Homo sapiens: one gene and its partners. The protein of the gene in region 1 purifies or fractionates together with the protein of each later gene. This does not show direct contact. Each region holds a gene or a part of one and is shown in the gene's direction. Other genes may lie near its edges.

Region 1 (4,430 bases):
CATGGCCTTTGCTGGCTTTGTGTCAGAGCGTGGGGTCCCATACCGCCCTACGGACCTGTTCGATGAGGTGCACCTCCACCCTGCCCTCCCAGCCCCCTGCCCTGGCTCCGCCTGACCATGGCTTACCTAACCTCCTGCTTACCCCGCTAGCTGGTGGCCCACGAGGTGGCAAGGATGCGGGCGGATGAGAACCACCCCCAGCGTGTCCTGCGTCACGTCCAGGAACTGGCAGAGCAGCTCTACAAGAACGTACGAGGGTAGCAGGACGGGAGGGCGTCGTACCGCCTTGATCCCTGGGCCCCTGCCCCACACCTGCCGTCTCCCCACAGGAGAACCCGTACCCAGCCGTGGCGATGCACAAGGTACAGAGGCCCGGTGAGAGCAGCCACCTGCGACGGGTGCCCCGACCCTTCCCCCGGCTGGATGAGGGCACCGTGCAGTGGATCGTGGACCAGGCTGCAGCCAAGATGCAGGGTGCACCCCCAGCTGTGAAGGCCGAGAGGAGGACCACCGTGCCCTCAGGGCCCCCCATGAGTGCGTAATGAGGGAGGGGAAGGCAGGCCCCGAGCGTGGCCCAGGATGGGCGTGGGGTCAGGGGTCCGAGTGTGTGTATTCTGTCCCCGCAGCTGCCATACTGGAGCGGTGCAGTGGGCTGCATGTCAACAGCGCCCGGCGGCTGGAGGTTGTGCGCAACTGCATCTCCTACGTGTTTGAGGGGAAAATGCTTGAGGCCAAGAAGGTGAGGGCTGTGCAGGCTCCAGCCGGGCCAGGGCAGCGGGTTTCAGAGGAGACCCAGGCTGCACTTCACCCTTGTGAGTGCTGACGCTGCCCCAGGGCCTCCTCTGCCTAACAGACAGCTAGAGGTGGCTGGGCTGGCCGGAGGGTAGGTGGGCTCCAGGTCTCCTCTCTTGACCTCAGTGAGGGGTGGGTCGGGCCTGCGCGGGAGACCCAGCCAGGGAGATGTACTTCCATTTTTAGAAATCAGAAGGTTTCACTATTATGTTTCGTCTGTGTCCTTCCCCTTAAATTGGGTAGGCCCATACACGACCTGTTCTTTGTACTTGATGGAAAACAGAGCTTGCTCCCTCCATACGTGACCTGTTCCTTGCATCTTATGGAAACAGAGCTTTTTGCTCCTGCTGTTTTGCTCTCTGTGGTGCTCACTTAACGCCTCTGGGGTCTTTCATCATGGCCAGTTGGAGACTCTTGTTTTTCATTGGCTGTATGGTGTCCCTTTGGGGCGGCCAGTTTTGTGATGAACGTTGTAGCAATAGAACGCAAACTCCAAGGCTTTCTGTGGCCGGGCCTGTGCCAGGCGAGTCACTGAGCCAGCCAGGCAGCTGTGAGCCTGTGAGCAAGGGGGCCCGGCCCGCAAGGCCTCCCTCCGGAGCGCACCTCCCTGCCAGCTCACAGGTGCAGCATCTGCGTCCTTGTGTCTGGCCTGGTGAACTTGTACTTGTGGAGTTGTCGGGCCCACTGGAGGTTTTAGTCTTTATTGGTCGGCAAAGCCCCAGAGTCTGGCACACCCCACCTGAAAGGCATTTGGGTCTCCTGGACACCTGCTGCCCTCCCTGCCAGGGCCCCGAGTGGGTCTTCTCTGTGCCCTCAGCCCGTGTCTCCTTTCCCCACCCCCAGCTGCTCCCAGCCGTGTTGAGGGCCCTGAAGGGGCGAGCTGCCCGCCGCTGCCTCGCCCAGGAGCTGCACCTGCATGTGCAGCAGAACCGTGCGGTCCTGGACCACCAGCAGTTTGACTTTGTCGTCCGTATGATGAACTGCTGCCTGCAGGTGAGGCCTCTTATCCTGCTAGTGACATGGCTCATGGCGCATGAGCGGGAACAGGCGGGCAGACCCTGGTCTGTGAGTGAGAGTGGAGAGACGGTGCAAGAGACTCCTGTGCCAGTGGGCAGGGGTCCTCGGTCTGCAGGGAACAGGGTGGAGAGAACCATTGTTGGGGGCAGGTGCTGGGGCCTGGGGTCTCCTGATATTGAGCCTCTGAGGCAGCCTTGGGGAGCTGGAGCCAAGGGTGTCAGGTGCTGGTCTGTGGTGGTTATGGGGTGGTGGGGGCATGGTGGGAGGTGAGTGCTGCCTGGGAGGGGAGAGGTCCTGACGGTCTCTCGCTCTACCTGCAGGACTGCACTTCTCTGGACGAGCATGGCATTGCGGCGGCTCTGCTGCCTCTGGTCACAGCCTTCTGCCGGGTGAGTGCTGGCATGGCTGAGGTCTCCTTCCCAGCCCCCCCTTCCTGGTGGCTGAGGTCTCCTTCCCAGCCCCCCTTCCTGGTGGCCGAGGTCTCCTTCCCAGCCGCCCTTCCTGGCTGCATCCAGCTGACCTTCTCCCCTGGCTCCTGCAGAAGCTGAGCCCGGGGGTGACGCAGTTTGCATACAGCTGTGTGCAGGAGCACGTGGTGTGGAGCACGCCACAGTTCTGGGAGGCCATGTTCTATGGGGATGTGCAGACTCACATCCGGGCCCTCTACCTGGAGCCCACGGAGGACCTGGCCCCCGCCCAGGTGCGCAGGGACTCCCTGGGCTGGGGGCTGGGGGCTAGGGGCTGGGGCAGCGTGGCCCCGGCTCATGCGTGTGGTGCCGTGGCAGGAGGTTGGGGAGGCACCTTCCCAGGAGGACGAGCGCTCTGCCCTAGACGTGGCTTCTGAGCAGCGGCGCTTGTGGCCAACTCTGAGTCGTGAGAAGCAGCAGGAGCTGGTGCAGAAGGAGGAGAGCACGGTGTTCAGCCAGGCCATCCACTATGCCAACCGCATGAGCTACCTCCTCCTGCCCCTGGACAGCAGCAAGAGCCGCCTACTTCGGGAGCGTGCCGGGCTGGGCGACCTGGAGAGCGCCAGCAACAGCCTGGTCACCAACAGGTGAGGCAGGGACTGGGGGTTGGGCCCAGTGGAGGCGGGGCCGTGGTGGGCAGGGCCCATGCCCACAGTTTCTTCTCTGGCCCAGCATGGCTGGCAGTGTGGCCGAGAGCTATGACACGGAGAGCGGCTTCGAGGATGCAGAGACCTGCGACGTAGCTGGGGCTGTGGTCCGCTTCATCAACCGCTTTGTGGACAAGGTCTGCACGGAGAGTGGGGTCACCAGCGACCACCTCAAGGGGCTGCATGTCATGGTGCCAGGTACGGGGGTTTGGGCTGGTGATTCCCCCTTGGATGGGTGGGGCTGGGCACAAAGTGTGAGAACTGTCTTCCCCCAGACATTGTCCAGATGCACATCGAGACCCTGGAGGCCGTGCAGCGGGAGAGCCGGAGGCTGCCGCCCATCCAGAAGGTTTGCGGGGGCCGTTGGGGCTGCGGGGGCCCAAGGCCCGGGCTGCATCCTGAGCTCCTGCTCTTGTTTTCGAGCAGCCCAAGCTGCTGCGGCCGCGCCTGCTGCCGGGTGAGGAGTGTGTGCTGGACGGCCTGCGCGTCTACCTGCTGCCGGATGGGCGTGAGGAGGGCGCGGGGGGCAGTGCTGGGGGACCAGCATTGCTCCCAGCTGAGGGCGCCGTCTTCCTCACCACGTACCGGGTCATCTTCACGGGGATGCCCACGGACCCCCTGGGTGAGCCTGCAGACTCTCTGGCCCTGTCGCCCCCTCTCCCCCAGGTCTTTGGGATGGATGGGCTTTCCCTGCCTCCCTCTCCCTTTTCTCGGGGGTTCTGGGTGCCCGTGGGAAACGGGCCTTTGTCTGCTCCTTCCCCACCCACTTGGGATTCCCCATAACTGTGGTACCCTGAGATTCTGGGACCCCCCCCCCCTTACCTTCCTTGCTTCTGACTCTGCCTGGCCTGTCCTAAGTTGGGGAGCAGGTGGTGGTCCGCTCCTTCCCGGTGGCTGCGCTGACCAAGGAGAAGCGCATCAGCGTCCAGACCCCTGTGGACCAGCTCCTGCAGGACGGGCTCCAGCTGCGCTCCTGCACATTCCAGGTGGGGCGCGGTGCGCGGGTGGGGCTCTCATCCCCCGCCCTGGTCTTTCTCCTGCAAACCGGTCTTTCTTGTATGAACCATTTTTAGGCCAGTCTCCAGCAGTGGCCCTGTTGTTACGCTTGCATGTCTGGGGCCCTCACTGTGGCTCTTGAGTTGATGTCCACTGTTTGATGTGCGGTCTTTGGGTCCTTGTCCTTTCCTTGGGGCGCCGGCCCTCAAGTCCGTGTCTTGGGTGTGCCTTGCAAACCCAGGCCTCAGCTCACAGCCACTGAGATTTCGAGTTTACACAAGCGCTTGCCTTCGTGTGACACAGATACAGGCCTTTGCCTGGGGCCTGCTTCTCTCTCTGTCATGGCTGCGAGGGGAAGGGGAGCCTGGCAGTGTCAGAGTTGGGGGAGGGGCTGGGGGGCCACCCACACCCCTAAGGGCTGCTTTTACTGACACAGCTGCTGAAAATGGCCTTTGACGAGGAGGTGGGGTCTGACAGCGCCGAGCTCTTCCGTAAGCAGCTGCATAAGCTG
Region 2 (4,430 bases), on another chromosome or scaffold:
GCAGCAGGAGGTGGGGCTTAGATCCAGTTGACTGACTAGTATGGAGCTCCTCCTTGGTTAAGCCGGTTGCCAGAAGACAGAACTGGAGGGGAAAGTAGCTCTGCTCATGCCGTCTTTCCATTTCCGTAGAGGAGAGAGGCAGTCAGTCCTCCTCTCAGCCTCTTGGCTTCCTTCGTCCTAATGATCACCCTGAAAGGTGCACAGTGCACCTTTGCCGGCGTGATCTCATTTAATCCTTAGTACAGCTGAGTGGTAGCCATTACTGTTCCCATTTTACAGATGAGGAAACATCAGAAAAACAAGACAACGCACTGGGGGTTCCGTAGCCATAAGAGACAAGCCAAGTGAGAAACAGACCCAGCCCCTCTGGCCCTAGTGTGCATCGTCTCCTGGGTGCCTGGCCTTTCCTCAGCTGCTGTTCCAAGTTATTGTTAGAACAACCTCTTATTCCATGAACGTCAAACCACTTCCTTCCCCTGGTTGCCCGTTCAAACCTTTTTGGGCCATAGATAGTTTGGGCAGCAAATGGAACTCCCTGTGTTTACCCACCTATTCTTTGCCCCAGCCACTACCAGTCCAGATGGGAAGAAAGATGGTCCTGGGTGGGACACCAGGCGGAGAAAAGCTGGGTTAACTAAAGGGCAAATCAATAATTCATACACAAAACCAGAGTACAAAAACCACTGCCTCCATTTATTCCACCTCAAATTGCCCTCTGGGGAGTCTTGTGGTCCACCCTAAACCCACCAAGTGGGGAGGTGGTGGTGGGAGCGGGAACACATGTAACTCCTCTTACACCCCATATCCTATTGTGTAGTTTTAAAAAGTCAGTGTTTATGGGCTTTGCCAATTTTGAATACAGTTTGTCTAAGAACACGTGTTTCCTACAGCGCTGAGAGCTTAATAAAAGAATTGCAACGTGGGGGAAGGTGGCACAACAAATGTAATTGTTGACCTAACAACAGAGAAAGGAGCAGATCTTTCTAATGAGTTCATTAGGTGCTTCCTAAAAGATCCCGGACTGCACACCAGCACCCACTTATGTAGCACAAGGTGCAACTCCGAGGGGCGTCCTAGAAGAGCTGCTGCTCTTCGCCCACCAGGGAGTTCTAACTGTATTGTATGCAAGTTTAAGTATAATAATATTGGCCCAGTTTGAAAGAAGTTAAACTTTTTCTTGGGTTTCTAATAAGGTAAATGGTATTTCCACCTTCTCAGAGGAGAATTCAAAGGTTTTTTTGATTCTGTTTTCTCAGTCATCCATTTGAGGCCTGGTCCTTGGCATTCCTCAGTGTGGCAGGGAGCTAGCTCCCAAGCCACCTGGCATATGCTGGCCACGGTGAAGCCATCTCAACGTTGCTCACCCCCACTTGTGGGCCCCCTGAAGTTATGCTTTTGAAGAGTGTCCTAAGAACAGATTATCCTATTTTTAATTATGTATTGAGCCCATCGAAAACCTGGAGTTGTAAGGAGAATCATCTCTAAGAGGGAATACAAACATCTCCATCTTTTTTTCTCTCCCAATTCTGAATGGCGCCAGTGTGAGCTAGGGTAGTATTCACACCAAGGGGTGGCGTTTATCTCTGCATATGTAAAGCTGCAGTGCTCCACCTGAAGGGATAAATTCTTGGCCACTTCTGGTGGGTCACTACTTTATTCAAAGATGTTTGGGGTCTGCCCATTGCCTCCTGGGCAGGTGGCAGGCAACTTTGTGAGACCTGCAGTGCCTCTGATCCTTGGTCCCAGCCTGTGTTTCCAACCTTGCCTCGCACCACCCTAACATGAGCCCCAGGCTCAGCAAGGGTGTCTTCTCATGGTCTCCCAAACTGGCCATGGTACAAGCAATTCTGATCCTTTGAGACTTAAGTGCGCTGTGGATCACTGCACCCCTACAACCGCAAAAAACCCAAACACAGAGTTTGTCAAGAATTTGGTGGCTTCCCAGGCTCTTGGAGCCCTCCCTGGGTTCCCCTTAAAAGCCCTGTCTGCCTAAAACACTCTTGTCCTGTGCCTCTTCATGCCTCATCCTCCCAGTCATTTCTGGTCCCTGTGTCACTCATGCCCAGGTTGGCACTCCTCACTCTCTGCACTGTCGCTGCAGTGAAACTCAGCCCTTTCCTGCCACACCTCCCCATCAGCACAGCCAGGTGCCCAACTCCCACCTCGGGTCTCGTGCAGCGGCCCGTGCTCCGCAGATCTGGCTCTCACTTACACATTGCCCCGGGCAGGGTTGGTTTCTAATTCATGTGTATCTTGTCTCTGTAGTGTGCCTGCCAGCTTCTCCACAGCTGGCCTGGGTCGTCGTCTTTGTGGCCCCTCACCGTCCCCTAGTGGAGCACTCTTTCTATAGTAGGTGCTCAAGAAATACATTTTCAACTCAATTGAAGGGAATAGGCTCCCATAACAGAATGAACTCATTTCAGAAGTTCATTACCAAGTCTTGAAAACCTTTTTTTATAGATCCTCCTGGACCGAATCCAGCTCTACCTTAATTAGCAAAGCAATTTGCAACACCCTTTCCCAAAAGTGCTTATGCGTCCCTTTGTGTGACTAGAATAGGGGCCGCTGTACCAATTGCTGTCACCACCCAAAATTCAATTTGCAAAATCGAAATCAGTGCCTGCAGCACTGATGTAGATTTGTATGTATAAAAGTTTAATATGGTAAAGAGAAATTTACTGACGACTGAACAGGGGAAATGCAAAAGGAGCAAAAATAGAGCTATAAAGGACACTCGTCAGATGAACATCTATTTTATTCACATTTGGGGAGCAGTGCTGAATTTTTCATAATGTCCCCACTGCTGCCTTTTCAAACCCAGCACTGCTATTAGTCCTAAAACGTCTGTGATCTCATTAGGTGTGAATGCAAAATCAGGTAATTTAAAGCATGTATTAAGAATATTTCTAAAAATGCACCGTCCATTTCATCAGAAAAACTGCATTTCAGAGCTCAGGAATGTTAGTGCTGGAGTCTGTGAATAAAGTGTAAGCTATAGGAACGTGGTGAGGCTTCTGGAATTCGACAGATGTCTCCACTGACATCCTTTTAAGTAGTAAGCATGACTTTTTTAATTGCTGAGCTTGAGTTATCTGTGGCTAGGAACCCAGCATTGACCAAGGCTTCATCACTCCTCAAGCAGTAAGAACTTGGCTAGAAATGGGCATGTCTCAAACTCCTGTCACCTCCACTGAGCTGCTTTTACAGCCTCAGTTAGACACCTTCTGACCTCAGACGGGAAACTGGATGGCAAGTCTGTTTTAGGACTCAGGTGTTTGGTTTTCTTTCTCAGGTTACAGCTGAGTCCAGGAATTCTGGGAACTCTCTAGGAGACTGTCTCTTTCACACAGGAAGTTTCAGAAGTGAGAGTGGTCGGGTGCGGTGGCTCAAGCCTGTAATCCCAGCACTTTGGGAGGCCGAGGTGGGCGGATCACAAGGTCAGGAGATTGAGACCATCCTGGCTAACACGGTGAAACCCCATCTCTACTAAAAATACAAAAAATTAGCCAGGCGTGGTAGCGGGCGCCTATAGTTCCAGCTACTTGGGAGGCTGAGGCAGGAGAATGGCATGAACCCGGGAGGCGGAGCTTGCAGTGAGCCAAGATTGTGCCAGTGCACTCCAGCCTGGGCGACAGAGTGAGACTCCATCTAAAAAAAAAAAAAAAAAGAAGTGAGAGTACCTGAGGGTCACTTTGCTTTTTGCACTTAGACTTTGTACATTTTGCTCTTATAGGAGCAGCACTCTGCAAGGGTGACCCGCCCCCCATGCCCCTCCTGTCTGTCCTGCTGCTCATCAGGGATGGGACTACGTGGCAAGGAAGGACAGCACCTTATACCACACCTGCTTGAGGGTGTGATACAAGGTTGCTGAGCAACCTACTGGTGACTTCTCACTGCTAGAGAAGTTGGAGCAGGAAGGGAACTTGAGTTGAAAGGTATTTGAGGGTGGGGATCTGGTCAGAATGCAGGTTTATCAGGAAGCAGTGTTAGGAGCCCAGGAGAGAGGCAGAGGCTATGGGAGGAAGGCAGATCAGCTTGTGGACTCCTTTCCTAAGAGCTTGGTTGGGAAGGTGGTGGGGATGGTGGCAGGACGGGAAGGTCCAGATAAGCGGCCATCAGGTGAAGACCAGGTACAGCAAACAGCTGCTCTCTCGGCAGACCATGGAGAGCTCAGTGACTGCTGAGAGCCACCAGGGTCAGTCAGGAGTGAAGCCTCAGCAGTTTTTCATCCTTCCTCACTTCCGTTTCCAGCGCCACCCTCGGCAGTGCACACCAGCCATGCTGATCCACTGGTAACATGCTGACCCATTCCCTGGGCACGGGCTCCACCTGGTCCTGTGCCTGGAGCACCCCACTCCCTTGCCGGTACATGCGCCCATCCTCAGCCACTCATTGTCCAGCACTTCCTGCCTGGCCCCATAGGCCCATAG
Region 3 (4,430 bases), on another chromosome or scaffold:
GCCATGTTCTTATAATAGAAGATATCACCTTTTTCAGAAGTTTGTCTGCATCACATCAGCTCTTTCCAAGGAACTAGAGATTCCTCATCTCTTTATATTTTGCATTGCTGACTAATTTCTTGTTTCATGTCTGAGGCGCCTCCAGTTTCTGCTTTTATTGCAAAACAGTGATGACCAGAACTTTCTGAACAGCCCTGTTCATTTCTCCAGATCTCTTTGATGACTTACTACAAGTTCTTCCAGAGGAGTAATCATCCAGAAATCCTATCACTGCAGTTTTACAGTATCAAAAATAACATTATAATTCAATAAATAGCATATAATTCACAGTAGGTAGATAAAGAGGCTGTTTTGCTTGTACATACTAATTTTAAAATTGCAACTCAGTTATTTGACTTTGTTGTTGTTGTTCTTGTTGTTGTTGTTTTTTGAGATGGAGTCTCGCTCTGTCGCCCAGGCTGGAGTGCAGTGGCGCGATCTCTGCTCACTGCAAGCTCTGCCTTCCAGGTTCACGCCGTTCTCCTGCCTCAGCATCCCAAGTAGCTGGGACTGCAGGCACCCGCCCCCACACCCGACTAATTTTTTTTTTTGTATTTTTAGTAGAGACGGGGTTTCACCATGGTCTTAATCTCCTGACCTCGTGATCGCCCACCTCGGCCTCCCAAAGTGCTGGGATTACAGGCGTGAGCCACTGCGCCCAGCGTTGACTTTAACACATTTATCTCTGACCAACCTTGCACTTGCCTTTTTTTTTTGGTGTGTGTGAGATAAATCAGCTTCTTTCACTGATACTTGTGAAGGAACTTTGCCTAACATTTATGAAAACTTTTTATTTTGGTTTTACTTATTTTATAACTTAGCCTATTTCAGATCACTGAATTATGAAATGAGTATTTCATTTCACTGCACTACTGTCTTACAGATGTCTTCAAATGTTTGCTAAAGAGTCTGGCCTTTCACTATATATTCTAATCATATATCCTGTATGAACAACCATAACACAAATCTTTCTTCACTTACCCAGATACGAAATGGTATATACTCAGAGGTCCTTTTAATCAAATGATCATGAAGTAAAGTTTTACAAAATATGTGTAGTCTTCTAATTGATTTCATTAGTTTCATTTTGGGTTTTTTTTTTTTTTTTTCTTTTTTGAGATGGAGTCTCGCTCTGTCGCCCAGGCTGGAGTGCAATAGCGCCATCTCGGCTCACTACAACCTCTGCCTCCCAGGTTCAAGCGATTCTTCTGCCTCAGCCCCCTGAGTAGCTGGGACTGCAGGCGTACGCCACCACGCCCAGCTAAAATTTTTTTTGTATTTTTAGTAGAGATGAGGTTTTACCTAATTGGCCAGGCTAATCTCAAACTCCCGACCTCGTGATCTGCCCGCCTCGGCCTCTCAATGTGCTGAGATTACAGGCATGAGCCACCGTGCCCAGCCTCATTTTGATTTTTTAATTATTATTACAGAAGCATTCGCCTAGTTCATTTTAGATTGTAAGGATATAGAAATAGAGAAGGCCGGGCATGGTGGCTTACACCTGTAATCCCAGCACTTTGGGAGGCCAAGGAGGGGGAGGATGACAAGGTCAGGAGTTCGAGACCAGCCTGGCCAACGTGGCAAAACCCCGTCTCTACTAAAAATACAAAAGTTAACCAGGCGTGGTGGCGGGCGCCTGTAGTCCCAGTTACTCAGGAGGCTGAGGCAGGAGAATCACTTGAACCCAGGAGGCGGAGGTTGCAGTGAACCGAAATCGTGCCATTGCACTCCAGCCTGGGCAACGAGCAAGACTCTCTCTCAGAAAAAAAAAAAAATAAGAGAGAAGATCTTGGGTTAGAGCTGCATACCATCTGCTTTATTTGCACTATTACTATACAACATGGTTTTGTGTACAGAACCTTTTGTACTGTATTAACATTGAGTCCAATCTAGCTGATCAAGTATCTGGAATATAATTATCTTCCTGCTATTTTCTAAACTGGTTCTCATTGATGTTAGTATTGCTACTGTACATAGTTGATCTTTTTTGTTTTTTTGAGACGGAGTCTCGCTCTGTCGCCCAGGCTGGAGTGCAGTGGCGCGATCTCGACTCACTGCAAGCTCCGCCTCCCAGGTTCACGCCATTCTGCCTCAGCCTCCTGAGTAGCTGGGACTACAGGCACCTGCCGCCACGCCTGGCTAATTTTTTGTATTTTTAGTAGAGACAGGGTTTCACCATGTTAGCCAGGATGGTCTCGATCTCCTGACGTCGTGATCCGCCTGCCTCGACCTCTCAAAGTGCTAGGATTACAGGCGTGAGCCACCGTGCCCGGCCGCCTAGTTGATCTTAATTCTGGTAGGAAATTTGGAAATCATCTAGTGCAGCCCCTCCTTTTTCTCAATCATGACATTTGAGACTCGGGCACAGTGGTTTATACCTTAATCTCAGCACTTTGGGAGGACCGGGGTGGGAGGATTACTTGAGCCCTGGAGGCTGAGGCTGCAGTGAGCCATGATCATGCCACTGCACTCCAGCCTGGGTGACAGAGTAAAACACTGTCTAAAAAGAAAGATATTGAGACCCAAATTACTTAAGTGATTTACCCAGTTACCTTCCTTCATGGAATTTGAGTGAAACTTTCTTTCCGTTTTACATGGATTTATTGTTCAGGATAACCTAGATTGGTGGTTTCCAAGCTTTTTAATAGAACTTTTTTTTTCCTTAAAAAAAAAAAAAATCTCACCTAGTCCGGGTGCGGTGACTCACGCCTGTAATTCCAGCACTTTGGGAGGCCAAGGCGGGGGGATTGCTTGAGCCCAGGAGTTCGAACCAGCCTAGGCAACATGATGAAACCCCGCCTCTGTAAAAAATACCGAAATTAGCCAGGTATGGTGGCGTGCGCCTGCAGTCCCAGCTGCCCGGTAGGCTGAAGCAGGAGAATCGCTTGAACCTGGGAGGCGGAGGTTGTGGTGAGCCTAGATCATGCCATTGCACTCCATCCTGGGCAACAAGAGCAAAACTCTGTCTCAAAAAAAAAAAAAGAAAAACATGTGAGCTCATGCCTGTAATCCCAGCACTTTGGGAGGCCAAGGCGGGCAGATCACTTGAGGTCAGGAGTTTGAGACCAGCCTGTCCAACAGGATGAAACCCCATATCTACTAAAAATACAAAAATTAGCCAGGCATGGTGGTGGGCACCTGTAATCCCAGCTACTCAGGAGGCTGAGGCATGAGACTGGTTTGAAGCCAGGGGGCAGAGGTCGCAGTGAGGCGAGATTGCACCACTGCATCCAGCCTGGGTGACAGAGTGAGACTCCATCTCAGAAAAAAAAAAAAAAAAAAAAAAAATATTGAGCTCTAATACATAAAACCTAATAGACAGGACCCAATTCTGAAACCCCATCCAGTTGGCTTGAAGTAATTTCAGGAACTTTAGGGCGCTGAAAAACATTCCTCTAAGTATTTATTTCTTGAGTTTGTTATTGTGCAAATTCATATATTTCATCATAATATTTTGGTTGAAATTAGAAAGTAGTAGTAATAGGCAATCCAAAAAAATGGATACAGAACATAATGAAGTCTTAAACTTTATTCAGAGTAAGAACACTTTGTAGAAATAAGTACACTTCATATTTGTACATCCCTGCTAGACAGTTTGAAGCCCCTGGAAATTATTTTACATTTATTTGAGTTATTTATAACATGTGAATTGGCTTCGAGGTGTTGAAAATATTCTAGACTTGCACACCAAGAATTACCAATAAGACCCTGACCTAGTTAGGGCTTTTTGTAGTCTTTTCTTTAGTGTAGAAGTCAAAGAAACCGATACAGATATGTCTTGATAGGCTCATATGCTATAATTGGTTGGATATTAGAAAGCCTGATTTTTAAAAAGCCATGAATGAGTCTTCACTTCATGAATCTGACTTGATTCTTTTTCATTCAATAGGAAAAAGCTCCTCAATTTCTGAAGAGAAAGGTGACTCTGATGATGAGAAACCAAGGAAAGGAGAAAGACGATCATCTAGGGTCAGACAGGTAACTCAGATACCTCCTAAAGCATTACCTCTTCAGTAATGCTTTGGATATCTTCTCTTCTTCAGACTTGTTTTGAGTTTGTATGTCTCTACATTTAGGGGTTTTGTTTTTCTTTTTTGGGACAGAGTCTGGCTCTGTCGCCTAGGCTGGAGTGCAGTGGCACAATCACAGCTTACTACAGCCTCGACCTCCTAGGCTTAAGCAGTCCTTCCACCTCAGCCTCCCAAAGGATTGGGATTACAGGCATGAGCCACTGCCTGGCCTCTAGATTTCTTTGTGGTTATCTTCCTTCTCCTCTTTGTCATCTTTTTGTTGTTCGTTTTGTCTTTTTATTTAGATCTGCTCTGCCTTTTAGATTTCTAAGTGAATATTTTTTAAAAGTTTAAATTTGAAAATTAGCAGGCTGCTCTGTA
Region 4 (4,430 bases), on another chromosome or scaffold:
GCTGGGCAACAACAGTGAAACTCCATCTCAAAAAAAAGAAAAGTGAGAGCCAGGGAAGGAGAACAGAAAGTAGAAGCAGGGATAAATTGTTTTAACACGAGATAAGAATTGTAAGTTATAATGGAGAGAAGGATGAAAGATAACTGACAGGTAAGTTATAGGAAAAAGAAAGAAGCACAAACTGGGTTTTTTGTTGGAGAATGGGGGCTCCAGGGAGGCCCTCATTACTTGGTTTCTGCTAAATAGTCCTTTCTGTTACAGCAGGTGCTACAGAAGTAACAACAGAACCAATCTAGTTCTTAACTGACTTAATGTTTGAGGGTATAACAATGATCTGGTCTAGCCCTATATATCAGTTTCATCTTGTTGCCTCTTGTCCTTAAATTGAGGGCACAGAATAAATTTCCTTAAAAGGCTCTATCCCCAAAGACTTCTTCACTTCTAAACCCTTAGCCATCACCACACTAACAGACTCTTAACACGTTCCTCTTGGGGGTCAAATAACTTCTCATTCAGCCTGTCTCGTATCACAGTCATCATTTCCCCAGTAAACCCAGTTCCATTTCTAACATCCCTGTTTTTGCTAATGGTATCATCATTCTAGTCACCCAGTCTCAAAACCTCAGCTGATCTGGGATTATTTCCCCTCTTACCTCCCTAAATGAAAATCCGTCATTTACTGTAAGTAAATTCTTAAATAACTAAGTAAATTCTTTTTAATGTCTCTTTTGTCAGTCTCTTCCATTCTTATTGCTACCATCCTAGTTCATACATTTTTGCCTCATACCTATGCTGTTAAATTTTTTTCCCGACTACTCTTTCTGTTTCCATTTTCTCTTCAGTCAAGTCAGCCCTGTACTGTAAGCATTAACTTTCCTAAAACTATGCTTTTGTTATGATTTTCACCAGGTTAAAAATGTTGAGTGGCTTCCCATTTTCTAAAAGGTAAAGTCCAGTTGTGTTGGCTGAGATTGAAAGTGCTGTACATTTCTTTCCAACCAGCATTTTTTCAGTATCTGAACCAGACACTGCTAGTGCTAAGTGTGATCAAGTTGAATAGACAGAGTAGTTGTTCAGATGAGTTCAGAGTCTTGTGAGACAGAAGACAGATATGTAAACAGATGAATTGATGTAATAGAATGTGATAACTGCTCTTGAATTACGAATGTAGATACATATCCATTATGCATTTAATTTAATGTAAAAAAATAGCTGTGATATTTTCAGGAAACCCATTTCTCAGTCATCACAAGTTAAAGTTGTGACTTGATTAAAACCTGTTAAAATTCAGTGGAAGCAAAGGTATGCGTTTACCTGTATGCTAAAGGCACAAAAAACTAATCTAAGCAGAAGGCTGGCCTTTTCTTTTCCCAAGTATTGTGCAGATACAATTGGCTTGAACATGTCTCTAAACTGACTTTCCCAGGAACTGGCCAGGCCATCTCTTTCTTTTTGGTGCAGATCAACCTGCCAGAAGTCAGAAGTAAACTTGTTTTGGTTTGTAAATTAGACACGTGAATGATAGACAATGATGACCCATTGGAAAAGGAAAACTTCATTATCCTTGCAGATGAAACCAAAAAGTATGCTCTTTAAGGATGAGAAATGAGAAGCTGACCAGTCACTAACTCATTTAAACCATGCAGCCTCCTGTTACAGTATGTATTGTTATGTCCATTTTATAGCTAAAAAACTGAAGTTCAAAGGTTAAATGGATGAAAGAGCAAGTGGCAGAGCCAGGATGCAAACTCAGCTCTGTCAGATTCCAAAATCCATGTGCTTTCCACTATAACATACTGTCTCCCAGCAGAATTACTGTCCCTGAAGAACCATAGAACAACAATTGCCAGGCTTGTTGTTGGAAATATTCAACTGATACTCAATTGTTAAATTTTTTTTAAGTCAGTTATCTGTCTTAGAAGACAAAACAACATCACGAGTTTTATTTCTGCTAGAGGATTATTTGAAGTTTTTTTTGCAGTTCAGATAAAGTCAGGTTATGGGCATCGCTAAAACACAGATTCCTTAACTGTTTGATGGTTAATCCTTCATACCATACTCTGGAGTTTCTCCCCAGTGTGGAATCTTAGTGGAATCAATGACGTCATCATCCTACATTAGCATTTGAAGGGTTTGCATTCCAGGCTGCCTCTAGAATTGTGGCCCATGAATCATCTTACTGAAAATAATCAATCTACATGTTATTGTTCCCTTGTGGTATTTTACAAGTTATGGTGGCATTATTTCAGAAAAGCAAAAATTTAGGGGACTGATGGACAGATAGACAATAGAGACGGTCAGATACATATTTGATTGAAATCATGTTACAATTTCATTTAAATGAAATAAAGCCATCTAACAAATTATATAGAAATGATTCAGCCGGGTGCAGTGGCTCACGCCTGTAATTCCAGCACTTTGGGAGGCCGAGGTGGGCGGGTCACTTGAGGTCAGGAGTGCCAGACCAGCTTGACCAAAATGGAGGAACCCCGTCTCTACTAAAAATACAAAATTAGCCAGGCATGGTGGCACAAGCCTGTAATCCCAGCTACTTGGGAGTCTGAGGCAGGGGAATCTCTTGAACCAGGAGGCGGAGGTTGCGGTGAGGCCGAGGTTGCGGTGAGCCGAGGTTGCGCCATTGCACTCCAGGCTGGGCAACAAGAGCAAAACTCCATCTCAAAAAAAACAAACAAAAAAAATGTAATGTTTCAGTTTCCTGGTAATAATATTCTGATGTTAAAAGACATATCTTTTTTAAAATGTTCAATGATAAAAAATTTATTAATATAAAAGTTGTTATTCATTTTCATTAACATCCATTCCAGTAGCTTAACTAATGTAGTTCTAGTTTGGCCTTGTCTCAGATGAGAATACCTGAGATGGTGTAAACAGATATCCAGGTAGACAGACCTTTTGTTCTTGTTTTGAGATAGAGTCTTGCTCTGTCTCCCAGGCTGTAGTGCAGTGGTGCAATCTCAGCTCACTGCAACCTCCACCTCCTGGGTTCAAGCGATTCTCTTTCCTCAGCCACCTGAGAAGCTGGGATCACAGGTGTGCGCCACCATGCCCGGCTAATTTTTGTATTTTTAGTAGAGATGGGGTTTCACCATGTTGGCCAGGCTGGTCTTGAACTCTTTATCTCAGGTGATCTGCCTGCCTCGGCATTCCAAAGTGCTGGGATTACATGCGTGAGCCGCTGCACCCAGCCCAGACCTGTTTTTAATAGCTTTGCACTAATGTTCTCATTTGAGGGAAGAGATATCTGAATGTTTGTTTATGGGCATAAGGCTACTTCCTTCTTTTCTTCAATATACATATAAATCTTGCTGACATCATATATGAGAGACAGAGAAAGAGATGTGTACACACACACACTTACACATTCACACATTCACACTCACAGAGAGATATAGCAGAGTTGCATGAGTCTTAGAACTAAACAAAACAAAAACCTGATACCTATTATGTTGTCCCAGAAAGCGAATTAAACTGGATCTTAAAAAGACATGTATGCGGCCGGGCGCAGTGGCTCACGCCTGTAATCCCAGCACTTTGGGAGGCCGAGGCAGGTGGATCACGAGGTCAGGGGTTCGAGACCAGCCTGACCAACATGGTGAAACCCTGTCTCTACTAAAAATAGAAAAATTAGCTGGGCGTGGTGGTGGGCACCTGTAATCCCAGCTACTTAGGAGGCTGAGGCAGGAGAATTGCTTGAACCTGGGAGGCGGAGGTTGCAGTGAGCCGAGATCGCGCCATTGCACTCCAGCCTGGGTGACAAAGTGAGACTCCGTCTCAAAAAAAAAAAAACGTGTGCTAGACCTAGTTCTATTTAACTGTATTCACATTAACAACTCTGGCCTCAGTACTCATCTGTAGAATGAGAGTGCTGAATTAGATTATTGCTGAGGCTCCTTCCAGCTTTGTGAATCGTTGTTTAGCTGAGGTTTTTCCACCATACAATTCCTAAGGCTGATAAAATGAGAGGATCAGATGTAAGCAGTGGTTACCAAGGGAGTCTCTGGAGTCAATTTACCTGGGTTCACATCCCATTTCTACCACATACTAGCTGTGAGGCTTTGAGCAAGTTTTTTAGCCTCTATGCCTCAGGTTTCTCATCTGTTAAATGAGGAGGATGATGATAATGATGAATTTGTTGGGGATGGTTATAGCATATCACCTAAGGTTGTTGTGAAGACTGAATTAGTTAATACCTGTACATGTCAAGTACTTAGAACACTGTCTGGCATACATTAATGTTTAGCTCAATAAATGTTTATCTTTTTTTCATTATTACTATTATTGTTTAAATTCTTCTTAGAAAACTGCTATAGAACTCTGAAGTGGTGGTGATTATTGCTGATAGTATATCATAATTAATTTCTCTATTAAGCATAGATCCAGATAATCTGGTAACCTGGAATCTGCTTTAA
Region 5 (4,430 bases), on another chromosome or scaffold:
GGTGAAACAGGTGTTTCAGAATAATGCATATGGTAAGATCCTATTTCATAAAATAAAACTGTAAGTTAATATATGTATAAAAAGAATCTCGAGCTGGGTGCAGTGGCTCACACCTGTAATCCCAGCACTTTGGGAGGCCAAGGCAGGTGGATCATGAGGTCAGGAGTTTGAGACCAGCCTGACCAACATGGTGAAACCCCGTCTCTACTGAAAATACAAAAATTAGCTGGGCATGGTGACACGTGCCTGTAATCCTGGCAACTCAGGAGGCTGAGGCAGGAGAATCGCTTGAACCCGGGAGATGGAGGTTGCAGTGAGCCAAGATCACACCATTGCACTCCAACCTGGGAGACAGAGCAAGACTCCGTCTCAAAAAAAAGAAAAATAGAATCTAGAAGACTATACCCTGCGCTTAACAGTAGTTAGCAGTAATGAATCAGGATGGAAACATGGTCTTGGGACACAAGAGCAGGGTGATGGCAGGGCAGAGCCATAGGTGTAGGCTGTTGGGAGGATCTGGGCAAGAGGCAGAAAGCAAAAGCGGGTAGGGGAGGGCTGGGTTGGTTTTGGTCTTAGGTTTCTGTGCTATGCTTTTGCATTTCACTCTCAACCTTTGAGAATTGTAGGAGTTTCCTAGATAGGTTTCAGTTGTATACCCTTTCTTGATAAATTAGTAGTAGAAGGCAACTATTTATTACTTTTAGGGTCTTTGGAATATTGTTTATTGATTTTCTGATCCCATCTTTCTTCCATAAGGTAACCATGGAGAAAGAGCTGCGGAGCACCATTCTTTTCAATGCCTACAAAAAGGAGATATTTACCACCAACAATGGCTACAAATCCATGCAGAAAAAACTTCGGAGTAATTGGAAGATTCAGAGGTGACTGACCATGTATATTGTTTTCCCTTCTAAATGATATTGTCCTGCTGATAAAGCTGAGAAGTCTTTATTTTCTTAGGTAACATAGATTGTTTAGGTGGGAGAAGCTCAATTTAAAGATTATTCAGAATTAGGTCTGGCGTGGTGGCTCACACCTGTAATCCCAGCAGTTTGGGAGGCTGAGGCGGGCGGATCACGAGGTCAAGAGATCAAGACTGGCCGGCACGGTGGCTGACACCTGTAATCCCAGCACTTTGGGAGGCCAAGGCGGGTGGATCATGAGGTCATGGGTTCGAGACAAGCCTGGACAAGATGGTGAAACCCCATCGCTACTAAAAATTAAAAAAAAAATTAGCGAAGTGTGGTGGTGGGCGCCTGTAATCCCAGCTCCTTGGGAGGCTGAAGCAGAGAATTGCTTGAACCCGGGAGGCAGAGGTTGCAGTGAGCCGAGATTGTGCCACTGCGCTCCAGCCTGGGCAACAGAGTGAGACTCCGTCTCAAAAAAAAAAAAAAAAAAAAAAGAAAGATCAAGACCATCCTGGCCAACATGGCGAAACCCTGTCTCTACTAAAAATACAAAAATCAGCTGGGCATGATCGTGCGTGCCTATGGTCCCAGCTGCTCGGGAGGCTGAGGCAGGAGAATCGCTTAAATCCAGGAGGCGGAGGTTACAGTAAGCCGAGATTGCGCCACTGCACTCCAGCTTGGTGACAGAGCGAGACTCTGTCTAAAAAAATAAAAAAACATTATTCAGAATGAAATAAATTCTTATTAAAACGTCTCTTGGGCAGGACGCGGTGGCTCATGCCTGTAATCCCAGCACTTTGGGAGGCTGAAGCAGGCAGATCACTAGAGGTCAAGAGTTGGCGACCAGCCTGGCCTACATGGCAAAACCTCATCTCTACTGAAAATACAAAAATTAGCCAGACATGATGGTGCATGCCTATAATCCCAGCTACTAAGGAGGCTGAGGCACAAGAATCCCTTGAACCCAGGAAGTGAATGCCTGCAGTGAGCCGAGATCATGCCACTGCACTCCAGCCTGGGAAACAGAGGGAGACTCTGTCAAAAACAAAAATTAAAAAAAAAATGTCTTTCGAAATCAGCAATTAGGATATTATTAAAGCAGCATATTATTAAGTTGTTTTCCAAATCACAAGCCAAAAGATTATTCTAATTATACACATGTAGCTTTTTAAGATGTTAGAGGCTTTCTTCATATTTTGACTCAGGTCAGTACTAGGGAAAGGAAACATGAGAATTAAATGAGAATAACTTTGTGTATGTGCATGTTTTTCTTAATAGGTGAGGATATGTAATCATACAAGCTAATGGTAGGGCTGATTGAATTAGTAGTTGCAGACTTCCTTATGCTTTAGCATGGCTTGATTTGAACACCTTGACTTACTGGAAGTATTTGAACAGAGGCCAGATGACTCTGGGGCAGGCCTGTAGAGGGAATTCTCACTTTGGGAGAGAGACTGGACCAGTTACCTCTAAATCCCTTCATCTCTGAGCCTCTGTGGCCTCTGCTTCCAAATAGTTAAGAGACTAAAATAATACATAAATTGGTTTAAATTATGGACTTCATATTTGCTTTTAAAATTGTATTTCCAGCTTAAAAGATGAAATCACATCTGAGAAGTTAAATGGAGTGAAACTGTGGATTACAGCTGGGCCAAGGGAAAAATTTACTGCAGCTGAGGTAAGAAATATCCACTAAAGAAGGAATATGGTGAAATGATTAGGAGTCTGAGCTTTGAAATACCGGATTTGAATCCCCCTTCACCACTTACTGTGTGGCCTTAAGGTAGTCACTTCATCTCTCTTTTCATCATGGAGTTGTGATGATTAACTGAGATACTCCATGTAAAGTACCAAACACATAGTGTGGGCCAATTAAATATTAGCCACACTTCTTTTTTTTTTTTTTTTTTTTTTTGAGACAGAGTCTCGCTCTGTCGCCGAGGCTGGAGTGCAGTGGCGCAATCTCGGCTCACTGCAACCTCCACCTCCCGGGTTCAAGCAATTCTCACTGCCTCAGCCTCCTGAGTAGCTGGGACTACAGGTGCCCACCACCACGCCCGGCTAATTTTTGTATTTTTGGTGCAGATGGGGTCTCACCATATTGGCCAGGCTGGTCTCAAACTCCTGACCTTGTGATCTGCCTACCTCAGCCTCCCAAAGTGCTGGGATTACAGGTGTGAGCCACCGAGCCCAGCCAGTAGCCACATTTCTTTGCTATATTTTTGCTTTGAAAATAGGAAAATTCCGCCAGGCGCGGTGGCTCACACCTGTAATCCCAACACTTTGGGAGGCCGAGGCAGGCAGATCACCTGAGGTCGGGAGTTCAAGACCACCCTGACCAACATGGAGAAACCCCGTCTCTACTAAAAATACAAAATTAGCCAGGCGTGGTGGCGCATTCCTGTAATCCCAGCTACATGAGAGGCTGAGGCAGGAGAATCGCTTGAACCTGGGAGGCGGAGCTTGCTGTGTGCCAAGATCGCGCCATCTCACTCCAGCCTGGGCAACAAGAGCAAAACTCCATCTCAAAAAAAAAAAAAGAAAGAAAATAGGAATTCATTTAAAATAAAAGTGTTTATTATTCTAGTTCATGGAATGGATAAAGAATGATAAATGTAAGGCCCAGAATACAAATGACAAGTATTGGTGAGAATGGGAAGTTATTGGAACCCTTCCACACTGATGGTGGGAATGTAAAATGATGCAGTCACCATGAAAAACAGTATGGTAGTTCCTCAAAAATTTAAGCATAAAATTGCCATATGATGGCTGTGTGTGGTGGCCCACGCCTGTAATCCCAGCACTTTGGGAGGCTGAGAAGGGTGGATCACTTGAGGTCAGGAGTTCGAGACTAGCCTGGCCAACATGGTGAAACCTCATCTCTACTAAAAATACAAAAATTAGCCGGGCGTGATGGTGTGCGCCTGTAATCCCAACTACTTGGGAGGCTGAGGCAGGAGAATCACTTGAACCTGGGAGGCGGAGTTGCAGCGAGCAGAGATCGGGCCACTGCACTCCAGCGTTGGCAACAGAGTGAGACTCTTTCAAAAAAAAAAAAAAAAAAAAACTGCCATATGATCTAGCAATTCCACTTCTGGGTATATGCCCAAAAGAATGGAAAACCAGATCTCAGAGATAGTTGCACACCTATCTTCCTAGCAGCGCTATTCACAATAGCCAAAAGGTGGAAATAGCCCAAGTATCCATCGGCAGATGAGTAGATAAGATATGGTATATACATACAATGGAATATTATTCAATCTTAAATAGGAAGGTAATTCTGATACATGCTACACATGGATGAATCTTGAGGACATTATGCCAAACGAAAATAAGGCAGACACAAAAAGACAAATACTGTATGATTTCACTTATGCAAGCATGAGGTACGTAGAGTAGTCGAATTCGTAGAGACAGAAAATAGAAGGGTGGTGGTTGCCAGGGCCTGGGGGAGGTGGGGAATGGAGCGTTGCTGCTTAATAGGTATAGAGTTTCAGTTTTGCAAGATGAAAACAGTTCTGC
Region 6 (3,507 bases), on another chromosome or scaffold:
GCTGCAGCCACAAGTCAGCCTGGCTGCCCCATTCTTGCTCAGCCTGCGCTGACTTGGGCTGTTCCTGAACTGGGGCTTGGGCTGTCCCCATGAACCTCATGGGGGTGGAGGTAATTAGGGCTGGGGCAGGTGGCAGCCAGAAAGCCGGGAGGAAGCGGCCTGTCCACTCATGGTTTGTCTGTGTGCTGTCCTGAGGAGCCCTGGGGTGGAGGTCCCTGCGGCTTTGGGGAGAGGGGACAGAGGGACAGCTCTGGCTGATTGCACAGTGTGGGGCGGGGCTGCCGCCTGGCCTCCGGCTCTTCGACAGCTCTCGGGGAAGCGGAGGCTGTGGTCCCCCTCCTCCTCCGGGGATTGATGTCGTCCTGTGCCACTGGGATGAATGGGGACATGGGGTCTGGAGAGGAGAGTTGGGCCTCCCCTTCCTTCTGGCCTTCCTGGCTGGCCCTGGGCTCTGCATGTTTGGGGTGATGGCTTTGCTGGGCGCCCTCTCCCCAGCCATCCCTGGATGCTTGTGTGGCTTCCATGCTTTTCCTGCCACCTGCACAGATGAGCCAAGAGTAGCAGGAAGGGAGGTGCCTACCTGCCCCAGGGGAGGGGCACAGACTTTGCCAGGGCGTCATGATGGTGTGGCTTCTTGGAAAGGTTCTCTAAAACAGGTTTGAGGAGCAAATATTTTTTTGAATGTTCAAAGACAGTGATAACATGATGTCAAATACAAAAACTGCCTGATTTCCCAAAATAAAGCAAGAACTTCAAAGATGTTTCAAGCCTGCAGCAGACTCTGAACAGCAGGAGGTGACTCCTCAGACCTGCTCTGCTGCCCAGGGGCTGGCCCTCCCGCCCTGTTGGTGCCCCGGGCGGGCAGGGGGAGTCAGTGCTGCCGCAGTAGCCTCTCCTGCTGGCCTGTTGTGGCTCGGGGGCATCTGCCGAGGCTGAGTGAGAGCCCAGGCTCCAGGGCCACCCTCACCTTTTCCGGGTCAGTGTCCTGACGTGGGCAGGTGGGTCCCGGCAAGGGGGTGACTCCTGTCGGGGTTGACATGCTGCCGCACACTCTGGCCCTGCAGGTATTATCGGGGGACCCACGGGGTCATTGTGGTTTACGACGTCACCAGTGCCGAGTCCTTTGTCAACGTCAAGCGGTGGCTTCACGAAATCAACCAGAACTGTGATGATGTGTGCCGAATATTAGGTGAGGCTGCACTCAGGGCCGGGTCGGGGTTGGGTGGGAGAGAGGCAGCCGGCTGCGCCCCTCAGGGCTGCGCTGACTCTGCCTTCGTTTGAAGTGGGTAATAAGAATGACGACCCTGAGCGGAAGGTGGTGGAGACGGAAGATGCCTACAAATTCGCCGGGCAGATGGGCATCCAGTTGTTCGAGACCAGCGCCAAGGAGAATGTCAACGTGGAAGAGGTGAGGCCCTGGGCCACTGTGGCTCTGCCACACACCCGTGGCCGCCTTCTCCATGCTGCTGGCCTGCTTGAGGCATCTAAATGACCAACAGAAAATGTCATAGTAACTGCCATTTATTGAGTGCCTACTATGTGCCAGGCCCTTTAACGATCTTAGTTCATAGTTCAACAGTCCTCTGAGGTAGGTACAATTATACCCACATTTCAAATAGGGAAACTGAGGCTCCAAGTGTTGAAGTAACTCAAGGACCACCACCTGGCTAGTAAGAGACTGAGTAAACCTCTGTCCCACACCAAAGCCAAGCACAGTTTCCACTCCAGTCCTCTGCCTCATTGGCCGCCTTGTGCTGTGTGGAGCCCAGAGGCCTGTGGAAGTCGAGGATCCCACTGCTTCAGGGCACAGGGGCCACACAGCAGCGGGCACAGGCTCCTTTGTAAGTCAGGCTGGTGTCCTGATGCTGGCCCATCCACCTGGGCCTGTGGGCAAGGCTGGTATGACCTTGGGCGGTGACTTCACCTCTCTGGGCCCCACATGCCATGAAGTGGCGTGGAGCAGGCAGACCCCGGGTCACCTATGTCCGTGAACAGCAGGGGCACTTTCATCTGTCATGTCATAAGATTCCAGCTGGGCCGGGCGCGCCGGCTCACGCCTGTAATCTCAGTGCTTTGGGAGGCCGAGGCGGGCGGATCACGAGGTCAGGAGATCGAGACCATCCTGGCTAACATGGTGGAACCCTGTCTCTACTAAAAATACAAAAAAATTAGCCGGGCGTGGTGGTGGGCGCCTGTAGTCCCAGCTACTCGGGAGGCTGAGGCAGGAGAATGGTGTGAACCAGGGAGGCAGAGTTTGCAGTGAGCTGAGATCACGCCACTGCACTCCAGCCTGGGCGACAGAGCGAGACTCCATCTCACAAAAAAAAAAAAAAAAAAAAGATTCCAGCTGAAGGAAAGGGGTTGGTCTCTCTAAAAGAAGGACTGGAAAACCCCTGTGAGATTGACTTCCCCAAGTCCACACAGCTCATGGGCCTCTGATGGTGTTCCTTTTTTCAGACTTATTTATTTGTTGAGTCAGGGTCTAACTCTGTCATCCAGGCTGGAGTGCAGTGGTGTGTTCACAGCCCACTGTAGTCTCGATCTCCTGGGCTCAAGTAATCCTCCCACCTTAGCTTCTCAAGTAGCTGGGACTACAGGTGTGCACCACCACTCCCGGCTAATTTTTGTGTTTTTTGTAGAGGTGGGGTTTTAGCAATGTTGTTCCTTTTTGACCTTTAAATAAAATAATTCACCACCTCCTTCTAGAATAGGCTTTGAAGACATACATACCAAAAATGCACAGGTAGAAAGAGCTGGGCCCCGGAAGGCGGGGAGGCAGCCGTGCAGGCCAGCAGGGGCCTCCTGGCCAGGTCTGAGGCGGGCCCTTCCTCTTTCCTCTCCACAGATGTTCAACTGCATCACGGAGCTGGTCCTCCGAGCAAAGAAAGACAACCTGGCAAAACAGCAGCAGCAACAACAGAACGATGTGGTGAAGCTCACGAAGAACAGTAAACGAAAGAAACGCTGCTGCTAATGGCACCCAGTCCACTGCAGAGACTGCACTGCGGTCCCTCCCCCAGCCCGAGGCCCACGGAGGTTCCTCGGGGGACAGTCTCAGTTTCGTGCCGTTATTTAAAGAATTCTCTCCATGTTTTTGTATCGGGAGGTGCCATCGGCACTTCCTCCCCCGCCCTCCTCGAGTGCCAAGAAGGTGTTGGACCAGCCCGCCCTTCCCTACTGGTGCCCCCTCCTCCCCGGCCAAGGCGCCTGGACCTGGCGAGGACGCTGCCCGCCGAGCGGACTGATTCGCAGAGTCTGTACATAGTGTATATTGCTCTACCCGGCCGCACACCACGTCCTGCTCTGGCTTTTGCCTTCTTGATGCCAGCCTGCTGCAACAGACCCTCCCCGCGCCCCTCCCCAGCCCATCTTACTGCAAGCAGCGTCCTGAGGAGACAGCGGCACGTTCTAGCTGCGTCTGCGGCCAGCCCGTGCCAGTGGAGTGGGCTCCGCGTTGCTCATTCTCTCCGACAGGTTGTCAGCCTCTGTCCCCGCTGCACAGGGTCT
Region 7 (4,430 bases), on another chromosome or scaffold:
CCACCCACCCTGGCCCCGCAGAGTGCTGGGATTACAGGTTGTGTGAGCCACTGCGCCTGGCTGCAGCTTGTCTGTCTTATTGGTTGACTCCTATGTTGCTTTATTTTTTTTTATTTTTATTTTTATTTTTTTTTAATTTATTTTTTTATTGATAATTCTTGGGTGTTTCTCACAGAGGGGGATTTGGCAGGGTCATGGGACAATAGTGGAGGGAAGGTCAGCAGATAAACAAGTGAACAAAGGTCTCTGGTTTTCCTAGGCAGAGGACCCTGCGGCCTTCCGCAGTGTTTGTGTCCCTGATTACTTGAGATTAGGGAGTGGTGATGACTCTTAACGAGCATGCTGCCTTCAAGCATCTGTTTAACAAAGCACATCTTGCACCGCCCTTAACCCATTTAACCCTGAGTGGACACAGCACATGTTTCAGAGAGCACAGGGTTGGGGGTAAGGTCACAGATCAACAGGATCCCAAGGCAGAAGAATTTTTCTTAGTGCAGAACAAAATGAAAAGTCTCCCATGTCTACTTCTTTCTACACAGACACGGCAACCATCCGATTTCTCAATCTTTTCCCCACCTTTTCCGCCTTTCTATTCCACAAAGCCGCCATTGTCATCCTGGCCCGTTCTCAGTGAGCTGTTGGGCACACCTCCCAGACGGGGTGGTGGCCAGGCAGAGGGGCTCCTCACTTCCCAGTAGGGGCGGCCGGGCAGAGGCGCCCCTCACCTCCCGGACGGGGCGGCTGGCCGGGCAGGGGGCTGACCCCCCCCACTTCCCTCCCGGACGGGGCGGCTGGCCGGGCGGAGGGGCTCTTCACTTCCCAGTAGGGGCCGCCGGGCAGAGGCGCCCCTCACCTCCCGGACGGGGCGGCTGGCCGGGCGGGGGGCTGACCCCCCCACCTCCCTCCCGGACGGGGCGGCTGGCCGGGCGGGGGGCTGACCCCCCCCCACCTCCCTCCCGGATGGGGTGGCTGCTGGGCAGAGACGCTCCTCACTTCCCAGATGGGGTGGCTGCCGGGCGGAGAGGCTCCTCACTTCTCAGACGGGGTGGTTGCCAGGCAGAGGGTCTCCTCACTTCTCAGACGGGGCGGCCGGGCAGAGACGCTCCTCACCTCCCAGACGGGGTCGCGGCCGGGCAGAGGCGCTCCTCACATCCCAGATGGGGCAGCGGGGCAGAGGTGCTCCCCACATCTCAGACGATGGGTGGCCGGGCAGAGACGCTCATCACTTCCTAGATGTGATGGCGGCCGGGAAGAGGCGCTCCTCACTTCCTAGATGGGATGGCGGCCGGGCGGAGACGCTCCTCACTTTCCAGACTGGGCAGCCAGGCAGAGGGGCTCCTCACATCCCAGACGATGGGCGGCCAGGCAGAGACACTCCTCACTTCCCAGACGGGGTGGCGGCCGGGCAGAGGCTGCAATCTCAGCACTTTGGGAGGCCAAGGCAGGCGGCTGGGAGGTGTAGGTTGTAGCGAGCCGAGATCATGCCACTGCACTCCAGCCTGGGCACCATTGAGCACTGAGTGAACGAGACTCCGTCTGCAATCCCGGCACCTCGGGAGGCCGAGGCTGGCGGATCACTCGCGGTTAGGGGCTGGAGACCGGCCCAGCCAACACAGCGAAACCCCGTCTCCACCAAAACCAGTCAGGCGTGGCGGTGCGTGCCTGCAATCGCAGGCACTCGGCAGGCTGAGGCAGGAGAATCAGGCAGGGAGGTTGCAGTGAGCCGAGATGGCAGCAGTACAGTCCAGCTTCGGCTCCGCATGAGAGGGAGACCGTGGAAAGAGAGGGAGACCATGGGGAGGGGGAGGGGGAGGGGGAGAGGGAGAGGGAGAGAGAGAGGGCATAATGCCTATGTTGCTTTATGATACAATTATCTTTCCAGATGTGTTGTCTCCTCAGTCAATCGGCTCCTGGAGGGTGGGACTTCTTTTTTTTTTTTTTTTTTTTTTTGAGATGCAGTCTTGCTCTGTCACCCAGGCTGGGGTGCAGTGGCACGATCTTGGCTCACTGCGACCTCCGCCTCCCAGGCTCAAGCAATTCTCCTGCCTCAGCCTCCCGAGTAGCTGGGACTACAGGTGCCCGTCACCACGCCCGGATAATTTTTGTATTTTTACTAGAGACGAGGTTTCACCATATTGGCCAGGCTGGTCTCGAACTCCTGACCTTGTGATCCTCCTGCCTCGGCCTTCCAAAGTGCTGAGATTACAGGCATGAGCCACCACGCCTGGCCGGAGGGTAGGACTTCTGAGATTTTCAGACTCTATCATGCCTAGCTTTGTGTGTAGATTGGCAGGTTCCTGGTCAAAGGAGTGCAGTTGGGAGGACTAGGGACCTACTGACCCTCTTTTCCCCAGGCGTGCTCCCATGCATATGCCCACACTCTCCCACACACTCCTGCTCCTGCCCTCCTGGCCTGTGACTCTTGGTGCCTCTTCTTGCAGCCAGTGTGGCTGTCTGTGGACTTTGATAACTGGAGAGACTGGGAAGGGGATGAAGAGATGGAGCTGGCTCATGTGGAACATTATGCAGAGGTGAGAGACAACACCTACTGTGTTCTGCCCACTTGATCATTCTTTGTGTTTCTCTGCACACATGTCTCTGGAGGATTGTCACTGGGGCCAAGCAGAGATATGCAAGCTCTCTAGGCAGGTTACTCATTGATGCTGATATTCTTTACGTATTTTGTGCAATGTTTATTTAATAGGGATGAGAGGAAAGAATATTATTGAAATTATATACATTGATTCACTTATTCAGTGTAGAGCCTGTATTCTGAAGAAGTTTGACAAAACGTTTTTCCACTTTTCTGTAATTCTTGTTCTACTGTTTTCTGTGTGTGTGTGTGTGTGTGTGGTTTTCTGTCGCCTAGGCTGGAGTGCAATGGCGCGATCTCAGCTCACTGCAACCTCTGCCTCTGGGTTCAAGCAATTTTGTCTCATCCTCCTGAGTAGCTGGGATTACAGGTGCCCACCACCACTTCTGGATAATTTTTGTATTTTTTTAGTAGAGACGGAGTTTCACCATGTTGGCCAGGCTGGTCTCAAATTCCTGACCTCAGGTGATCCACCTGCCTCACCCTCCCAAGTGGTGGGATTACAGGCGTAAGTCACCATGCCTGGCCTGTGTGTGTGGTTTTCTTTTTGAGACAGAGTCTTGCTCTGTCTCCCAGGCTGGAGTGCAGTAGCTCCCTGCAACCTCCACTTCCCAGGTTCAAGTGATTCTTGTGCCTCAGCCACCTGAGTAGCTGGGATTACAGGCATGCGCCACCACCCCTGGCTAATTTTTTTTTGTATTTTTGGTAGAGATGGGGTTTCATCATGTTGGCCAGGCTGGTCTGGAACTCCTGGCCTCAAGTGATCTGTCTGTCTCAGCCTCCCAAAGTGCTCACATTACAAATGTGAGCCACCAAACCCGGCCTCTGTGTGTGTGTGTGTGTGTGTGTGTGTGTGTGTGTGTGTGTGCGCGTGTTAAGCCAGACAACTTCATGGGATGTTAAAACTAGCAGTATAAAAACTCACATCATAAATAATTGGCCCCCAGTAAATCACACACTGTCGTTATATTATTTGGTTTCAGTTATAAAAACACTAGCCGACTCCAATCTGGATTTGTGTTAAATTTTCTTTTAAGAAGGGGATCAATTTACTTTTCTCAAATTAATTCCAGTGATGTTTTAAAGATGGGAGCAGTTGCCTGACCAGTTCTGGCTGCAACCATTCTTCTATGGACCATCAATGTGCAGATTGTTCTTCCTTCACTCCCTTCTCCCTTGTGATTATTTTTTCTTCCCACTAGCTTTTGAAGAAGGTCAGCACCAAGAGACCTCCACCTGCCATGGATGATTTGGATGTAAGTAAAGCCTTCCCCTCAACCCTTCAGTTTCTTTGTAGCCCTTAAAAACAACCCACTAGAGAGCTCCTATCCCAGTTCCTAGCACACAGTAGTTCTCAGTGCCTGTTAACCAAATTTGAGTTTGACCCAAGAGGGCTAATATTCTTTTTTTGGGGGGTGGGGGAGGAGTTTCACTCTTTCGCCCAGGTTGGAGTGCAGTGGCCCGATCTTGGCTCACTGCAACCTCTGCCTCCTGGGTTCAAGAGATTCTCCTGCCTCAGACTCCTGAGTAGCTGGGAATATAGGTGCCTGCCACCACGCCCAGCTAATTTTTGTATTTTTAGTAGAGACAGGGTTTTGCCATGTTAGCCAGGCTGGTCTCGAACTCCTGGCCTGAGGTGATCCACCCGCCTCGGCCTCCCAAAGTATTGGGATTACAGGCGTGAGCCACCACGCCTGGCCCAAGAAGGCTAATATTCTTCTCCAGGCTTTAGAAAACCCTAGCAAGACCCTCCTGCTTTCCATCTACCCCTCTGTTTCTCCATCCTAGAGAAGACCTACCCCAGCTGTAAGGAGCAATAGCATTAATTAAAATTCTG

The links.
Region 2: the proteins of SBF1 (region 1) and UQCC2 purify together in Homo sapiens (affinity purification with mass spectrometry, with the first as the bait; one large-scale study listed by BioGRID). This does not show direct contact.
Region 3: the proteins of SBF1 (region 1) and ACIN1 purify together in Homo sapiens (affinity purification with mass spectrometry, with the first as the bait; one large-scale study listed by BioGRID). This does not show direct contact.
Region 4: the proteins of SBF1 (region 1) and CTTNBP2NL purify together in Homo sapiens (affinity purification with mass spectrometry, with the first as the bait; one large-scale study listed by BioGRID). This does not show direct contact.
Region 5: the proteins of SBF1 (region 1) and IFT52 purify together in Homo sapiens (affinity purification with mass spectrometry, with the first as the bait; one large-scale study listed by BioGRID). This does not show direct contact.
Region 6: the proteins of SBF1 (region 1) and RAB35 purify together in Homo sapiens (affinity purification with mass spectrometry, with the first as the bait; one large-scale study listed by BioGRID). This does not show direct contact.
Region 7: the proteins of SBF1 (region 1) and PTGES3L purify together in Homo sapiens (affinity purification with mass spectrometry, with the first as the bait; one large-scale study listed by BioGRID). This does not show direct contact.

Annotation. Positions count from the first base shown.
Region 1 is NC_000022.11:50,460,638-50,465,067, reverse strand, and holds part of SBF1 (myotubularin-related protein 5), read left to right. Parts: coding exon 1-67; intron 68-150; coding exon 151-249; intron 250-329; coding exon 330-534; intron 535-626; coding exon 627-739; intron 740-1,635; coding exon 1,636-1,785; intron 1,786-2,129; coding exon 2,130-2,198; intron 2,199-2,350; coding exon 2,351-2,509; intron 2,510-2,594; coding exon 2,595-2,863; intron 2,864-2,948; coding exon 2,949-3,121; intron 3,122-3,198; coding exon 3,199-3,272; intron 3,273-3,349; coding exon 3,350-3,545; intron 3,546-3,781; coding exon 3,782-3,909; intron 3,910-4,355; coding exon 4,356-4,430. UniProt on the Homo sapiens protein: Acts as an adapter for the phosphatase MTMR2 to regulate MTMR2 catalytic activity and subcellular location. Promotes the exchange of GDP to GTP, converting inactive GDP-bound Rab proteins into their active GTP-bound form.
Region 2 is NC_000006.12:33,704,271-33,708,700, reverse strand, and holds part of UQCC2 (ubiquinol-cytochrome c reductase complex assembly factor 2), read left to right. Parts: intron 1-4,430.
Region 3 is NC_000014.9:23,081,335-23,085,764, reverse strand, and holds part of ACIN1 (apoptotic chromatin condensation inducer in the nucleus), read left to right. Parts: intron 1-3,550; exon of another isoform or gene 3,551-3,928; coding exon 3,929-4,017; exon of another isoform or gene 4,018-4,430.
Region 4 is NC_000001.11:112,402,390-112,406,819, forward strand, and holds part of CTTNBP2NL (CTTNBP2 N-terminal-like protein), read left to right. Parts: intron 1-4,430. UniProt on the Homo sapiens protein: Regulates lamellipodial actin dynamics in a CTTN-dependent manner. Associates with core striatin-interacting phosphatase and kinase (STRIPAK) complex to form CTTNBP2NL-STRIPAK complexes.
Region 5 is NC_000020.11:43,593,937-43,598,366, forward strand, and holds part of IFT52 (intraflagellar transport protein 52 homolog), read left to right. Parts: intron 1-756; 5' UTR 757-762; coding exon 763-881; intron 882-2,498; coding exon 2,499-2,586; intron 2,587-4,430. UniProt on the Homo sapiens protein: Involved in ciliogenesis as part of a complex involved in intraflagellar transport (IFT), the bi-directional movement of particles required for the assembly, maintenance and functioning of primary cilia. Required for the anterograde transport of IFT88.
Region 6 is NC_000012.12:120,096,712-120,100,218, reverse strand, and holds part of RAB35 (ras-related protein Rab-35), read left to right. Parts: intron 1-1,064; coding exon 1,065-1,189; intron 1,190-1,283; coding exon 1,284-1,408; intron 1,409-2,845; coding exon 2,846-2,974; 3' UTR 2,975-3,507. UniProt on the Homo sapiens protein: The small GTPases Rab are key regulators of intracellular membrane trafficking, from the formation of transport vesicles to their fusion with membranes.
Region 7 is NC_000017.11:42,969,708-42,974,137, reverse strand, and holds part of PTGES3L (putative protein PTGES3L), read left to right. Parts: intron 1-2,441; coding exon 2,442-2,531; intron 2,532-3,795; coding exon 3,796-3,849; intron 3,850-4,430. Other genes in the region: PTGES3L-AARSD1 protein, read left to right, coding at 2,442-2,531, 3,796-3,849.